Linked DNA regions of Homo sapiens: region 2 is linked to region 1. A link means that fine-mapping ties the variant in region 1 to the expression of a gene that starts in the linked region. Tissue or cell type: cerebellar hemisphere. Region 1 holds a variant in brackets; the other region holds the start of a gene. All regions are shown on one strand. Distances are between the middles of the regions.

The links. PIP is the estimated chance that this variant, and not a neighbour inherited with it, causes the effect.
Region 2: it holds the start of NHSL1, and the variant in region 1 is fine-mapped to the expression of NHSL1 in cerebellar hemisphere (GTEx, PIP above 0.99).

The regions. Positions count from the first base shown.
Region 1 is chr6:138,571,405-138,579,589 of GRCh38, forward strand. It overlaps a transcript of NHSL1 not described here. Among named protein-coding and RNA genes, the nearest start is that of NHSL1, 76 kb to the left of the region's middle. RefSeq lists enhancers at 743-1,499, 5,278-5,778. The variant G/T (reference allele first, on the strand shown) is at 5,072.
Region 2 is chr6:138,495,061-138,503,245 of GRCh38, forward strand. It overlaps NHSL1 (NHS like 1), which reads right to left and starts at 4,434. Exons shown (of 8, transcript NM_001144060.2): 1 at 4,173-4,434; 2 at 1,159-1,311. The coding sequence starts at 4,230.

The DNA.
Region 1 (8,185 bases):
TGGTTTATCATTGAACTTTTCACAAGTCACATGAGCATGTGGCTCTGATGGAGGGAGGGAGGCTGCCGAGAACAAATAACAGCTACTTTATCTTTCTTTGAATGATACAAGATACAAGCTCAAGCTGAGGAAGAGCATTTTTATTTTAGACATGTAAACAAATGACGCCGAATTCCAATACAAAAACAAACATTTCAAAAGAAACTCCTAATGGGGGCAAAAATCATGAAGGGGGAGTGATAGAAACAAAGAATTCTACATAACAAACTTTTTCAAATGTTTAAATTTTTTAAAAATCGAGTCACCTTTTCTGGGCTGGGCTCTGTATATCCAGTTTTCGTCATCCACTTCCACCTGCTGCCCACAAACCGAGAGCTCTCCATCACTGCGAAACAGCCTCTTTGTCTGCCTGGACAAGGAGGAGAAATTTATCCAACTTACAGCACGTGAGAGAGAACCTGTATTCGGCTGGAGTCTGAAGGAACCTGAAGAGCCTTCCTTTTTCATCTTCTTTTCAAAATCAACTAGAGACAAAGAACAGCCCAGCAAACAAAACGCTGGGTTTTTTGCGTTGGCCCAGGTCCTCTCCACGAGCCTGCTGTTTCCCTCTTAGACAACGCTGACAGTCAGGCACCGCATTATCCAAAAAGACGGCTTCTGTGTCACCCAATTAAAAAGAAAGGGAAAAGGAGGGGTTAAGAAAGAAAAGAAAAATGTTTTACCCTAGCCACATTGTGGACTCCGTTTCTAGATCCGCGATATCCACGGCCAAAAAATAATAAACAAATAAAAGTATAATTTAAAAAATGAAGCAGCGTGTTCATTTCAGGAGTACTTGTCAGGACTTTGCAAAACACAAAGCCAAGGCACCCCGACTCTTTGGCGTGTCCCTAGCATCCCAAATTGTAATCCTACTCCTCTCCTGGGCATCTTTCCCCACCAGGGCAGAAAGCCAGCTGCCCTGGTGAAGTAACTCCTCACCCTAGAGAAAAAGAGTCAGGGTCAAGCCAGGCACCCAGTTTACAGTTCACCCACACGGTTACTTGGGAGAAATCAAAGAGCTCAGCTCACTCGCCCCAGCACAGGGCAGAATCATAAACCGCCCACTTGCTCTCCTTCCCGTCTGTGAAGCGCTCGTTCAGAGCCGCAGGACTCCGCAAACAATAAAACCGGCTGCGTGGCTATTGCCTGGATTACAGAGCAAGCACTCCTGCGAAAGACGATAGGCTTTCCCGACACCAAAGGCACCTCATTGGAGACAGAAAACCCCGCCTCTCCACAGTCAATACTTCAGTGGCAGCTCAAACTTCTGAACTTTAGCGCAGCTAGGGGTATGCAAGTCTGTGCAGAATACAGACTTCTGGGCATAAAGAAAAAGAACTTGATTATGAATTATCAAACCATACTTCTGAAACTACAATTTTGAGAAGGGGCTTAATACAGTAGATAGATAGATAGATAGATAGATAGATAGATAGATAGATACATCCAACATTCCTAGATGGATTTAGGAATGTCCATCATTTAAGGAAGTATATTTCCAAAGAGAATATAACGGACCCGGCTATTCACTCCCAGCTTCCAACAAAGGTGAAACGCAGCCATCATTGTACCTGTTACTGTCACTCCTGCCTGTCACCAGCAGCCAGAGTGTGGGGCTGGATCCTCCTCTGCCGTATCACTGGGAGCCCCTGGGGGTTATTCCTCTCCAACCTTGAATGATCATCCTATCACAAAGAGTCATCAGAGAGCTACGCTAGTGGCACTTAGCTGCAGGCTCTAGCCCTGAGCCTCCTCTGCAAACTATCTAGAGCCACAGCTTGCAATGCATTTGGGTGTAGCATTTCACCCAAGGCTAACTTACTACAATTCCACGGTCCTAGGGGTGTTAAAAGTCCCTGCAACTTTCCATCATAGAGACTTGGGTCGGCATCTCCTTCTCCCAAGCGTTATTTGGGGTAAGGCAAATAAGCAACGAGTAGAGAACTAGGTCTGTAGCACTTTGCTTTACTCAGCATCGATCAGATACATTAAAATTAACAAACTGCAATAGAAAATAAACTGATTAAAAATTTTAAAACCAGAATTTTGCATCATACATCTACTCCAATTCACTGAGATTTTAAGAAGAAGGCTCTACAAGCTTACTGGGACAGGAACACTTGTAGAAGATAGTCAGAAGTTCTACAAAGTGTTACTAAGATAGGCAGTTCATATTACACCATGTAAATAATGACAGAGAACAGGTATTACTAAGGCAGAAGCTACAAAGCAGCCTCAGTTTAAAAGCTAAAAGAGTCCTTGAGATCACGTAGTTTAAACTCCATGATTTTCAGATAGGAAAACTCAGGCCCAGAGAAAGTATGTTCATACCCAATGTCACACAGAGAAGTCAGTAATGAGGACCAGGCTGCAGCCGACACCACTTGGATCAGAGATTCACACACTTACCAGGGATGCTTGCTACATCACCAAGTGCTCTGGGCCTGTTTCAGTTATTAATTGCAATAATATCTCCACTTTGACTACCATTATTTTATTTTCTTTTTTTTGAGACAGAGTCTCACTCTGTCGCCCAGGCTGGAGTGCAGTGGCATGATGCAAGCTCTGCCTCCCGGGTTCACACCATTCTCCTGACTCAGCCTCCCGAGTAGCTGGGACCACAGGCGCCTGCCACCACGCCTGGCTAATTTTGTTTTTGTATTTTTAGTAGAGACAGGGTTTCACCGTGTTAGCCAGGATGGTCTCGATCCCCTGACTTTGTGATCCGCCTGCCTTGGCCTCCCAAGGTGCTGGGATTACAGGCGTGAGCCACCGCACCCAGATGACTACCATTATAAAGGCAAAGTTAAAATAGTTGTGCATAACACCAGTGGCTAACATCAAACATCCACTCTCTTCTTTCTGAGTAGAAAACACTTTTTGAGAGTCTCAAAATATAAAAGGAAAAGTAAAAAAAGACCATCTCACCAGAGAAATCCATTAATGCCCCAAATGCTGTTTGCCATTTCACTGGTTCACGAGACCCCCGCCACACATCTGTGCACACTCAAAGGAGCCATGGAACCCAAACAATGAACACAATTCTCTTCTCCCTACTCTCTACATCCTGCAGCTGCATTTTTAATTTAAAAATATCTGGCTGGGCACGGTGGCTTACGTCTGTAATCCCAGCACTTTGGGAGGCCAAGGTAGATGAATCGTTTGAGCTTAGGAGTTCAAGCTCGGCCTGGGAAACATGGCAAAACTCTGTGTCTACAAATAATGCAAAAAAAAAAAAAAAGAAAAGAAAAAAAGTTAAGTCAGGCATGGTGGTACTTGCCTGTGGTCCCAGCTACTCAGGAGGCTGAGGTGGGAGGATCGCTTGAGCCCAGGAAATCGAGGCTTCAGTGAGCTGTGGTTGCACCACTGCACTCCAGCCTGGGCAATAGAGTGAGACCCTATCTCAAAAGAAATAAATAAAAATAAAAAATTATATATATGCTTAAACCTTGTGTGTTCTTCTTTTTTTGGAGACGGAGTTTCCCTCTTGTTGCCCAGGCTGGAGTGCAATGGCGCAATCTCAGCTCATCACAACCTCTGCCTCTCGGGTTCAAGTGATTCTCCTCCCTCAGCCTCCCGAGTAGCTAGGATTACAGGCATATGCCACCACACCCAGCTAATTTTGTATTTTTAGTAGAGACGGGGTTTCTCCATGTTGGTCAGGCTGGTCTCGAACTCCCAACCTCAGGTGATCTGTCTGCCTCGGCCTCCCAAAGTGCTGGGATTACAGACATGAGCCACCGTGCCTGGTCCAAGTGCTATTTTTTATTTACCAGAAGTGCTGTTGAGCGCTTTCCTCAACTCCCCCTCCATGGAATGTGCATACACACAGCAGCAAAGGTGAATTGGTATCATTAGTAACTGGCGTGTTTTCCTCCAGGGCCCCCAACCCTGTACACTTCAAGGAAAGGGTTAACAGGAGAAGCTAAAGGAACATTTCCTGCCAAGCAGCCAAAATGATAACTAGTCCATTCAGGGACTAGACTCATGACTCTCCGTCAAAGTAAGTGCCCACGTCTGCCAGATTTCCAGAAACTGTGCACCCACAAATCATAAGACCTAGGGATACGTTTGTATAATAACCAATTCTCTGTCTACTGGCTAGTCCATATTTCTGTTATATTGGGCCTTGATTATTAAATCTTCATTTATCTAAGAAAGTCAAATAAATTAACTACTTTTACAACTGGATCAGAGTTCCTGTTGATCAAGAGAATATAATGGTTTAAATCAGCTTTGTAGGTAATAATTAGATCTTAACTATGCATATTAGATATATACTCTAATTAGCTTAGAACATCCTAAGTGGGCTTCTTAAGAAGCTACTATATTCACTCAAGCTATATTTGTTTAGCAACCACGATGAACCCCACATTTTAGTTATGTGGATTATCAACCCAAGAGCCATACAAATCAGCCCCTCCTGGCAGCAGGGCCAAGGCTACTTTGTGCCAAAAGCTTCCTGTATATTATTGCTAACCTTCACAATAACCCTGCCGTGGAAAAATCCCTACATTTATTTATTTATTTATTTATTTATTTATTTATTTATTTATTTATTTTGAGGCAGAGTCTCACTCTGTCACTCAGGCCAGAGCGCAGTGGCGCGATCTTGTCTCATTGCAACCTTCGCCTCCCGGGTTTAAGCGATTCTCTTTCCTCAGCCTCCCAAGTAGCTGGAACTACAGGCGCGCATCTCCACGCCTGGCTAATTTTTGTATTTTTAGCAGAGACAGGGTTTTGCCATGTTGGCCAGTCTGATCTCAAACTCCTGATGTCAGGTGATCTGCCCGCCTCAGCCTCCCAAAGTGCTGGGATTACAAGCATGACCCACCGCTCCCCGCCTGCAAATCCTACTTTTACAGTAATTGGTTTTTAAAAAAAATAACTTCAGCTATAATCTTCAAAGTAATGAAAACATCTTAACGTAGCTATTTTTCTCCAAGAAAACCTACATTAGACTGCCTTGTCCCCATGTGAGACAGACGTGCTGAACAGATTTTATCTGCCTTCCTTACCGTGCTGGGCT[G/T]CCCCCTCCCCTCTCACTGTCAGGCTGTCAAATTCGAACTTCTGCTGTCATCACATGTGCCAATAACTGCTCCCTTCCTACCACTTTGCCACTGCTGAGCTTCAGGCCTTAGGAATCACATAAACAGGCTTGTTTAAATTACATGTTTAATGGGAGTTAATGAGGGCTCACGGAATAAAAGGCAGAGCCTCTGTGGAAGGGCTTTGTCGCAGCTGCCTTTGGCCAGCACCCCCCTCCTTCACCAGCGGGACGGAAGCCCCAGGGTTGAAATGGCTGAAATGGCTGGAGGAGCAGACCCTGCATAATGACCCCCAGGTGGATCTTTACACCATGTTTATGATCAATTGCATCTTTTATACTTAGTTCTCCACATTTGAGGGTCACTTACCCATCACTGCTGACAAAGGGACAAGAAATTACTCTATATTACTCTATATATTTCAGAAATGATTTACATAATACATTAAGGAAAATTTAACTATAAAAACTGGAGGCACCAGAATAAATTACTAGAGGAAGTTCTAGAATCATCTCCTTTGGGAATTCCTAAGTCAAATGCCCATGAATTTGGAAAGATTTATCTATGCTTCTACCAAGAGTCAAAGGAATAGACTGAATATATTTGGAAGGTTCTTGCCATAAGACACAATATTTTATGTTTCAGCATATACTGGCATCCTGAAAAAGGAGTTTATCATAAATGAAAGTTGGAGACTTAATAAAAAGTGTTAAAGAGGACAGGATATAGGATTAGACAAACCTTTCAACGCAACCAGGCATGTAATTGCTCTACTCGCCATCTGTGTAAAATGCCAGCCAAAAATAGGAACTAATTTCAAGTGCCATCAGTTTTTTGGCCTCACAGGCCACAAATGAGCACTGTGACTTTTCATTTCCATGTGTAGCTTGCCTGCCCTGTCAAACCTAGCAAAGAGAACAAGAGAGGCAGCACCCTGAAGTTAGAAATCAATGGGAAAACACGGCTGGATTGCAAGCGCCGCTGGGGTTGGCTGGTTTGGCTGGGAGTGAGGTGCATAAACAGAAGGCATGTGAAAAGAGACAAAGGTGCAAAGAGAACCACATAGAGCACAGAAGAGGACTACTCTCAATGGTGTCACGTTCTGAAGTGGCCCTGCCTGGGCTGGGAGCAGTGAAGTGTGCCTCTCATCAGATTACCACATGAATCACCCAGACAACCCACAGGGACCTTTAGCTTAGGACAGCGTACAGTAGGTTTTCCAACTGTCATCTCCTGTGAATAATTTAAGAGTACACTTAAATGGAAATCTTTCTATGAGGTAATTTGTACACACGAATAATGAAAGCTTATCTCAATATCAAAAGTAAATACTTTGAGCCAGATATTTATAATTAAAAAAACAAAACAACCAAACGGTATTACCCCCAGGACCACAGCAAACACATTCCCCATAGTACATTAAATCCTTCTTCCTTTATCCACCTTTCCACCCACCAAGGAATGAAACAAGTGATTGTACTCTAGAAAGAAGTCATGGAAGGCAAAACGCAGCTAATTACCTAATCAGCGCCGGCCCCGTTTTCAGGTTGCCCTCAACTACCACTGCTTTAAAACTTAAAAGAAGGAAAAGCACTGACTTCTCATTAAACCCTGGCTTTAAAAGCCACAGTGCCTTCAACGGAATTAATAGTGTTGTTCCCCTCAAAGGGAAAGACTCAACACAAACATTTATGCATATGTATCACCACCAGCCCAACTCCCACCTTTCAAAGTCTTCATGCCTGAAAAGGGCGAACAGATCTGACATCCTAAGCCTTAGCTGCACTGTCCCCATGGGATCACTTGATACAGAAGCAATATGGCAGATTATTGCTCTCAGTCCCCTAAGGTGCAAGGGGACAAAGGATGTCGCTGGTAAAGAAGCCGCCACTGACACAGAACATGGACGTCAGAGGCTTGGTAAGCAGTACATAACCAAAAATGCAACATCTGTACCAACTTTCACCAAGAAAATGTCCCCAACCTAAGGAGTTCAGATTACAAGAAATCCTAAAACAGCATCAACTTTGAGATTCTTCTAATATAAGAAGACCAAGGGCAAACTTATTCTGAGATCAAAATAAAATTCCAAATAAATAACTTTTTTAAAAATCATGACTTCCTTTGTTCTTGATACCTTTCCTGTAGCCTCTCCAGTGATCACTGTGGTTATTATTTTTTTTAATCTACTCAACCAGTTTTTCTTTTTTTTTGTAAATTGTATTAAGCACTTAAAATCATAGGAGATCTTATTGAAATGCAGAGTGTGATTCAGGTCTGGGGAAGGGACTGCAATTCTGAACTCCTAGAAGCGCCCAAGTGATGCTAGTGCACAGACTGTATTTAAGTTAGCACAGTGCTAGACTATAATGCCCCTGAGGCCAGGAAGCTCATCTGTCATCTTCCTGTCCCTTACAGCAGTGGTCCCCAGCCTTTCTGGCACCAGGGACCAGTTTCATGGAGGACCATTTTTCCATGGACAGCAGGGTAGGGAGTGGTTTCAGGATGAAACTTCCACCTCAGCTCATCAGCAGCATGAGATTCTCATAAGCAGTGTGCAACCTAGATCCCTGGCATGCATGGCTCACAACAGGGTTCGCACTCCTATGAGAATCTAATGCCGCTGCCTGTCTGACAGGAGGTGAAGCTCAGGCAGCAATGCTCGCTTGCCCACAGCTCCCCTCCTGCTGAGCCGCCTGGTTCCTAATAGGCCACAGCCTGGGGTTTGGGGACCCCTGCCTTATAATGCCTTATACACAGCCAGCATTTAGCCAATGTTGGTTGACAGGGTGAAAAAAATGGAACCATCCATCATTTCCATGTTACCTTTTTATTTTGATCTTAACAAGTTTCAGCGTAAGGAGATAATTAGGCCTTTATAGCAATCATTCCTTTATCACTAAATCACAAAAAGCAAAAGTAAAATGTATAAACTGGCAAAAAGTATACAACCTGAATTAAAGGGTTAATAATAAAACCCCATTCATATGGCCATACTGTTTCACTTTGGGAAGAAAGAAGCTTATTAACTGATAGGCGTATGCTTTTCTTCATTTATTAGGACATCTTCACTGCTTCCATCCACGAGAACTTCA
Region 2 (8,185 bases), 76 kb before region 1:
GGTGAAACCCCATCTCTACTAAAAATACAAAAATTAGCCAGGTGTGGTGATGCACTCCTGTAATCCCAGCTACTCAGAAGGCTGAGGCAGGAGAATGGCTCAAACCTGGGAGGTGGAGGTTGCAGTGAGCCGAGATCACACCACTGCACTCCAGCCTGGGTGACAGAGTGAGACTCCATCTCAATAAGAAAAACAAACCACAATGAACTGAAGTAAAAATGAGAATTTTAAACTAGATATAGGAATACATTCTTCCTATATTTTCTACTTGACCAAGTATACCTTGCTCATCTGCTGGCAGAACCTAGGCTCAGAGGAGCCCAGTTGGGTGATACCCCAGTTCTGATAAATCAAACCATTTAGCATGTCTTCAAAGTCTATACATAGGTCCTTTTTCCAGCCAGCTTGAACTAAACAGAACAAACAAGTGTGTTCAAAAAAACAAATTGGTTTTGAATACTTACAATGGTTTTAAAAAGACAGTGGCAAAACTGCCCATGTCAGCAGTGGTTTATTTGGATCAAATTAACACTGGCGGTTTAAACATGCTAAAGTGTTTCTAAGAAGGTGTGGGCTCCTGGAAACAGATTTGCATATCTGCAAATAGGCAAGTTTCTGCAGAGACCAGAACATCTTAGGCATGTGTATTATCCCATTTTCACACTGCTGAAAAAGATATACCCAAGACTGGGAAATTTATAAAGAAAAAGAGGTTTAATGGACTCATAGTTCCACATGGCTGGGGAGGCCGCACAATCATGGCAGAAGGTGAAAGGCACGTCTTATATGGCGGCAGACAAGAGAGAATTGACAGCCAAGCAAAAGGGGTGTCCCCTTATAAAACCATCAGATTTCATGAGACTCATTCACTATCATGAGAACAGTATGGGGGAAATTGGCCCCATGATTCAATTATCTCCCACTGGGTCCCTCCTACAACACAGGGGAATTATGGGAGCTACAATTCAAGATGAGATTTGGGTGGGGACACAGCCAAACCATATCAGCATGTATTAGGTTGTATTTATGATATCGTATAAAGACGTAGCATACTATACATTCAATAAAAGTAGAGCTGGTTTTATAAATAGATATCAAATTTATGCTCTCAGCAGCCAGTAACCCAAGAAAATAAGCTCACAGAGGATGCCATCTTACCCCTCAGTACTGATTTGAGGTTGAGCTTGGCTTGGCGGTGCAGGTCCTCAACACAGGGGGGTCTTGTGGTGGGAAGGAACACATTCTCCTGCTGGTGCCACGGGGCAGTGTAGTGGACTGTCCATCGGCTTTCCTCATCTAGGTTGGAAACCGCTATAGAAAAAAAGATAGAATACATTCAGGTGTCAACTTCATTGGCTACGAGTTCATTACATCATGATGTGTTTCCATGTCTAACACATCCACGGGTAAGGGCCAGCAAGGGAGCAATGGAGCAAATCCTAAATTAGTTTTAATCTTAGATTCCAGGGGTCTCGCCCACAGTGTTTTACTTATAAAAGAAAAGCTGAAAGTGTCCACCCTCCAAACAATGTTTTCATAGAATCATTTGCTCAGTTAACTGCTTCCCAGCATTTTAGGTCCTCCCTTTACTCCAATGTTTGAAAACATCTGACAGAATTGATAGAGACCTCCAATTCCTACTTAACCCCCCTCGCACACACACAACAAATAGCAGTTACTCAACTGTATAATGCCATCGCAACAGTAAATGTTAGACTGTCCTGATAGAAATGAATTTCCTACCAGGAGGTTTATAACAAATATTCTCCCTCTACAGCATTATTTAAAGAGCATCACTGTTATAAACTCAATTACATTTTTAAAAAATTAAGCGTAAACATTCAATTTACATGTAAATGACATAGCTAATACATGTGGAGACCCATTTGTGTTACAAAATTCTCTCTGCATTTCTTGCTTTCATGAAACCCTTTTATATTAAACATTTTTAAAATTACAATGCAATTGACTCTTCCCAACACAATCCAGTTCAACTAAATTTTCCCAGCACAGAAGAGACCAAGACATTAGAGGACAAAATAACAGGTAAAATCCTGAGAGTAAGATAAATCTCTACAATAATTTTTCTTTAAATCCTCGGAGGCTTGAGACCTCTCTAGTTCATTTTTCCTGACAACACGAGCTAAGTTGGGGCATCAGTGGAGCCCAAAATGAGGCCGACAGCACCAAAACAAATTCATCAACAATGTTTTAATACTTTCTATATACCTGCCATGTAACCCAGGCATAAGAGAGACTGGAAAGGTACTGGAGAAAGTCCTTGTGCTGAGGCATTTGCTTGAGGTAGCAAGTCTAACCCCTGTAAAGCCAGCAGATACTTGAATTGTGAGTGAGGAGCAAGTCTTCCTGACTCTGATCTATGCTATAGAGTTCACACTGGGCGTATCCATGTCCCCAACATAACATGTACCTGGAAACTAGACCATAAAATGAATTCTCAAAGTAACATGAGAACACACGCATAAACTATTAAATCCATTTGAGCACATCTAAAATTCACTAAACATACTCTATAGCACAGTTATTAGGGCTACTCTAAAGATCAAATGAACCAATATACATAAAGTACTTAGCTCAAGAAATAACTCAGGTAAAACATGGTTGTGGCAGGAACAGTAAAAATTATTCTAACGAGGCCCCAAACTTTGAACTGTCACTGTCTCTTGTAAACCTGGGCCACATGCTAGCGCTCATCTCACATACCATCTTTTCTGCAGCTACTAAATTTTACAATCTTATGAATCTGAACAGGATAACTCATTTTCAAAAGGACCCCACCTTCTCCGTAAGTTGCTAAATGAGAAAATAAACATTGAGAACTAGATATCAAGTTAAAAACAGAAATGTCCATTGTGCTTTCTGCTTAGTATTTGACAAAAGCAGTATGTGAATTTGGCACCTAGTATTTCATGTAAACTCTTGTTGAGCAAATGTTTTGCATGGTGCATACAACTATCAATCTTAATACACAAAATCCACAAAGACCTGACTTAACCCTCATTTGTGTTTCAGAAGAATCTAGCATTGGGCCAAACTCACCATATGTCCCCCCAAAGTGTAGCCAGAGTTCATCACAGTGTTTTGTGCTGATGTCCATTTATTTTAAAGACTGAGTTACCATACTTCAGAGTTAGAAACTATTGAAAATGGAAACTTTTCCTATTCGACAATTTCAAATCAAATCCAAGTAATGGCATTCGTGTCTGCACCATCAATCGCACCATCGGCCCCACTGCACAGCTACCAACTGGCTCCTATGAAAAAGTCTCTTCCCCTCGTGTTCCTCACTCTCGCCAGGGCCACTTTTAATCTGTTCATCCAAAGGCAGCCTTTAGCAAGGAGCTGCAGAAAATCAGCCCACCGTGCTGCTCTTTGTAGCTTTCTCCAAAGCTCCTCTTACCAATGCCCCTACCCATGTTCATTTATCCAGTATAAGTCACTGGTCCAAACACTAAACTAAACTAAAATAAAATAAACCACCGACTATGTAAAAACAAAGCCAAGTAGTTATAAAAATTATTATTTTCAAGAGAATGAAGAAGCACCTACATTAAAGAAATGTAAGTCAATGGTAAGTACACAATAAAGCCACATCACAAAAGTTCTGTACCTTACAACAATCACTGATCAGTCTAGACAGTTTGTGCTCGAGCTCTTAAATACACAACAAAGAGTGCCAGGGAGTTTCAGGGGATTATCTCCACCAGAAATATGTGATACATTACACAGAGGCTCCCTTACCTCAGCTGCATATTTATCCAAAGAATCAAAAAATCATACACTTGATATCAAGGGAAACATAAATTAAGTACAAGAATTTCCCCCCTCTTCAAAGGACTTCTTTTGAAAAGCACAGAAGAAGTGAATTCACTTAAAACCCCAATCATAAATAAATAAGACATGCTAAGATCACATAATACTGTCCTAGAGTTACAAAAGTCTGAGGTATTTAAACAACCTGGTATAGAGTAGAGTTTAACTCATGCCTATTACGCTGTTTCACACTCTAATTTCTTCACACAAAAGAACGAAGGACCTAAAACACACACATGGACACACACACACACACACACACACAGACACACAGGGACATATACACATATGGAAACATATGCACACAATAGGTAGTAGAGAGAAAAGGAACTACTTACTTTTCTTCTTAAAAAGTTTAATTAAAGACTTAATCTTTGCATTAATGAAGACCACCATTTCCAGGGCACCTACATAGAGCTTAGAAATGTAAATCACATTAAAAGCTCAGCCCAGTAGGCAGGTGGCAAGCTTCGTCCTTCTGCTACAGATTCTAACTTTTTCTTCCCCCGGTCTCATATCCTTAGACATCTGCCCAGGCTGATGTAACTGAGGTTGAGTTTATTGTCAGGCAGTTACAAACCATTAACAGTCCTTGAACCTGAAAAACTCCTACTGAAACCTAATCTTTAAGGCTGAGAGCAGCCAGTGACATCGTGCGCTGAAAGAAAGAGAAAGCCAATCACGGTTCTTATTTGCATGACAGCCACATCAGGCTTTCTGCCTCAGTGCCCATTCATTCAGTTTTCTCTCCAACAGATCAGAAGTTCCTCCTCTCTGAGCCCACAAAAATAGTGCAGACTTTCCTCTACGGAAGTCAAGATGAAACAAATGTGTTCCCCATTTCATTAGGCCCCTATGAACACCCAGATCTTTTACAGGAGCTGCCAAGTCTGACAGCAATTCCAGTTAATTCAGGGTATATGGGATTTGAACTGATTTAGGGGGGAAAAAAACCAAACTATTGTTTCCCAACCACGCCCCAGGCTCTGCCTCCGATACCAAAGGAACTTGTACAAGCAGTAAAACTTTAGAATAGAATCTCCAAGGAGCTGCAAATGATGACTTGGTTGCATTTTTGTGCAAATTAGGATGCTCTGTCTTCTCACCCTTCTTTGCCAGTGATTGAGAATCAGCATTGTGTGTTCCAAAGCATGATCTTATTTGCATCTAGCTGCCACAACAATCAAGAAAAAAAAAAATCCACCAAAAAAAATACAACTTCCCCACTCCAAATGATAAATTAGATAAAGTACCCTAATCATTTTAATCTTTATTTTATATGTAATTGTCACTTAGGCTCCTGGTTTTCAGAATTCCATAATCGCCCTTCCCTCAATGTTGTCTCAAACAAACATTATCTGAGTTACTCTTTAACTTGAATCTACCATCCAGAGTGCTGGTTCTTTTGCCCATTGGCAATTAACCACAGAGAACTAGGGAAGCACAAGTAGAGACAGAGAAATCAGAAACAGAGTATAAGAAGGCACTGAAAAAACATATTCCAGGGGTAAAGGGATAGGAAAAAAGAGGAGAATATAGATCCGGAAATACTATGACAACGGAAAAAGGAAAAGAATCTTCCTCACATCTCAGCCCAGTTCCACTTCATGGCCAAACACTTTTGAAACAATTTAGACAACCTCTTATTTCATAGCTTTGGGCCAGACTTATAACTCAATGGAAAAATGTAATAATCCACTAATTCAAAACATTTAGTTTATAACAAAGGCTCTTAGTCAAAGAATAAAATTTATATAAGGGGCTCTGTCTAGGGAAAGCTTTGAAATGATTCCTTCTCAGGTCTTTTTATGCCCTTTATTTTTTCAACAACAACAAAACAAAAGAACACATAGGGGAAAGCTTTGAAATGATTCCTTCTCAGGTCTTTTTATGCCCTTTATTTTTTCAACAACAACAAAACAAAAGAACACATAGAAACGTTACCATCTTATCATACATATTATCACAGATTTCCAATTTGTGTTATTTCATTTTATATATAGCTTTATTTTAAAGTAATTAAATTGCCAGATGGCAAATGAGAAACGACTGAGCCTGTAAGTCAGATTATGTGGCTGCCTTAAATTAGCGGGCAAAGTTCCCCTTTGGAAAACAAATTTATCTGCAAGAGTGACCTCGCTCTGCTCATTGCATTAGACACAAGGAGAGTTGTGGGCAAAAACACTCATATGCACAATCCACAAGTGTTTGAGGTTAAGTGTCACCATGCAAATGTCCAGTGAAAACAGAAATTGTTCTTTCAAGAAACTCTGATTATGCTCAACCCTCCATAGCATGTAGCTTTCCATGTGCTCAACAATGGCATCTGAATATAGATTCGTTCATCAGAAAGATAAATACCAGGCACCGATGCTAACTGCTACTCTTTCATTTCATTGGGATACATCATTGGACAAAATAGGTGAGATCCCTGCCCTCATGGAGCTTAAATTATTTGACACTGAACTACAATTTTGTGGTATATTAGAAGGAGTTGAGTGCAACAGACAAAATAAAAAAGTTAAGCAACATAAAAGGGGGTTTGAGGGTGGCCAGGCTGCAGCATCGTAGGAGTCAGGGTGGTCCTCGTGAAAAGTCGAGATTTGAGCAAAACCTTGAAGGAGGCAATGGCAAGAAAACAAAACTGTGTAATGAATCTCACTGGCTCTCATTTTAAAGAGAGAGAGAGAGATTCCTCAGGCTGTGAGACACATTTCCATCCCCCAGGACTAGAGAAGTGCTCTTTCCTCTCAGAAAATGAACTGTAGGAAGAATCTTGCATGGGGTAATTTCCTTTCTCACTCAATATTAAGTGTGATATAAAGTGGCCGCAGTTGTTCCTCTGTATCCATTCCAGGATGCCCCTTGGATACAAAAATCCTTGGATGCTCCAGTCCCTGATATAAAATACTGTAGTATTTGCATGCAACCTATGCACATCTTCCCATATACTTTAAATCATCTCTACATTACTTATAGTACCTAATACAATGTAAATGCTACGTAAGTAGTTGTTATACTGTATTGGTTTAAAAATATGTATTTTTTTTATTGCTGCATTACTTTTATTGTGGTTTTTTCCCCAAATATTTTTGTTCCATGGTTGCTTGAATCCACGGAAGTGGAACCTGTGGATATGGAGAGCCAACTGTACTTGGTTACACACGAGTAAGTGGTAAACCTGGGGGAGAATGCAGGCTTCCATCCCGGCATCCTAGGATGTCTCATCCTCTGTGCATTATTCCACACTGCCACATAACACCATAAAATCCAGATCTCCAGGAAATAAACCAAATAAACTATCACATTTCTTGCGTTCTATATTAAGTTGTATTTTGAAAGCACTTATTAATTAGAAAGTTTACCCAATCAATTGCCAGCTCTTACTTTACATCCTTGATATGAGCATGAGCACAGGGAAATGTTTTCATCATATAATCTGCATGCCTCAATGCTGTGGTTGATGGAAGAGCCGTATTCTTCTGGAACTGTATTTTTTAATTGTTCAATTTATACGTGCAACAGAAAAGATATAAATCCATGGTACTTCTGATGCCTACTTCAGCCATATATGACAGTGGCGGAAAAAAAAAAAAAGTTTTTATAAAGATAGGGTACTATGTTGCCCGGCTGTTCTCAAACTCCTGGCCTCCAGCAATCCTCCCACCTCAGCTTCCCAAAGTGTTTGGATTACAAGCAAGGCCCATTGCACAGGGCAAAAAAAGAAAAAGAAATGTTCTAATGAACTAGACATGAAAAACTTGACACTAATGCATAATAGCGAAAAGCAGTCCCCCTCTGGAACCATCCTACCCAGGTTACCAGCCACTGACCAGAGGAGTGACCCCTCCATGCCTTGGTTTGCTCATCTGTAAAACGGGATAACAACAGTGTTTATATCACCAGGTCATGATGAAAACTAAGAGTTATTATTGATAAACTCCTTAGAACAGTACCTGGTATGTAAACATACGTAAGTGTATGTTAAATCAATGAATAAAATCTCAAGAGATAGCTTAGCAGCCTTCTGCTTAATAAAGGGCCATGCTTTCATGCAAGGGAATCAGTGTAGCAGACCCCATGGCTGTCTTCCTACTTGTCTCTGACTTAAACTGCCAACACCTCGAGTAATTGCTCTATACCCCCTGCTTCCAATTTATATCCACATACTATCTTTTCTATTGTCTAAGATTTTATTTCAATTTTTAAAAAATTCTCAGTGGTCATCGGTGAATTTCTGACTCCTACTAATGGTGTTTTTCTTTCTCCTCACCTTCCTAATGATCTTCTTAATCATATACTTCCAACCACCCAGCTCTTGATCCTCTTCATTGACACTGCAACACACTAG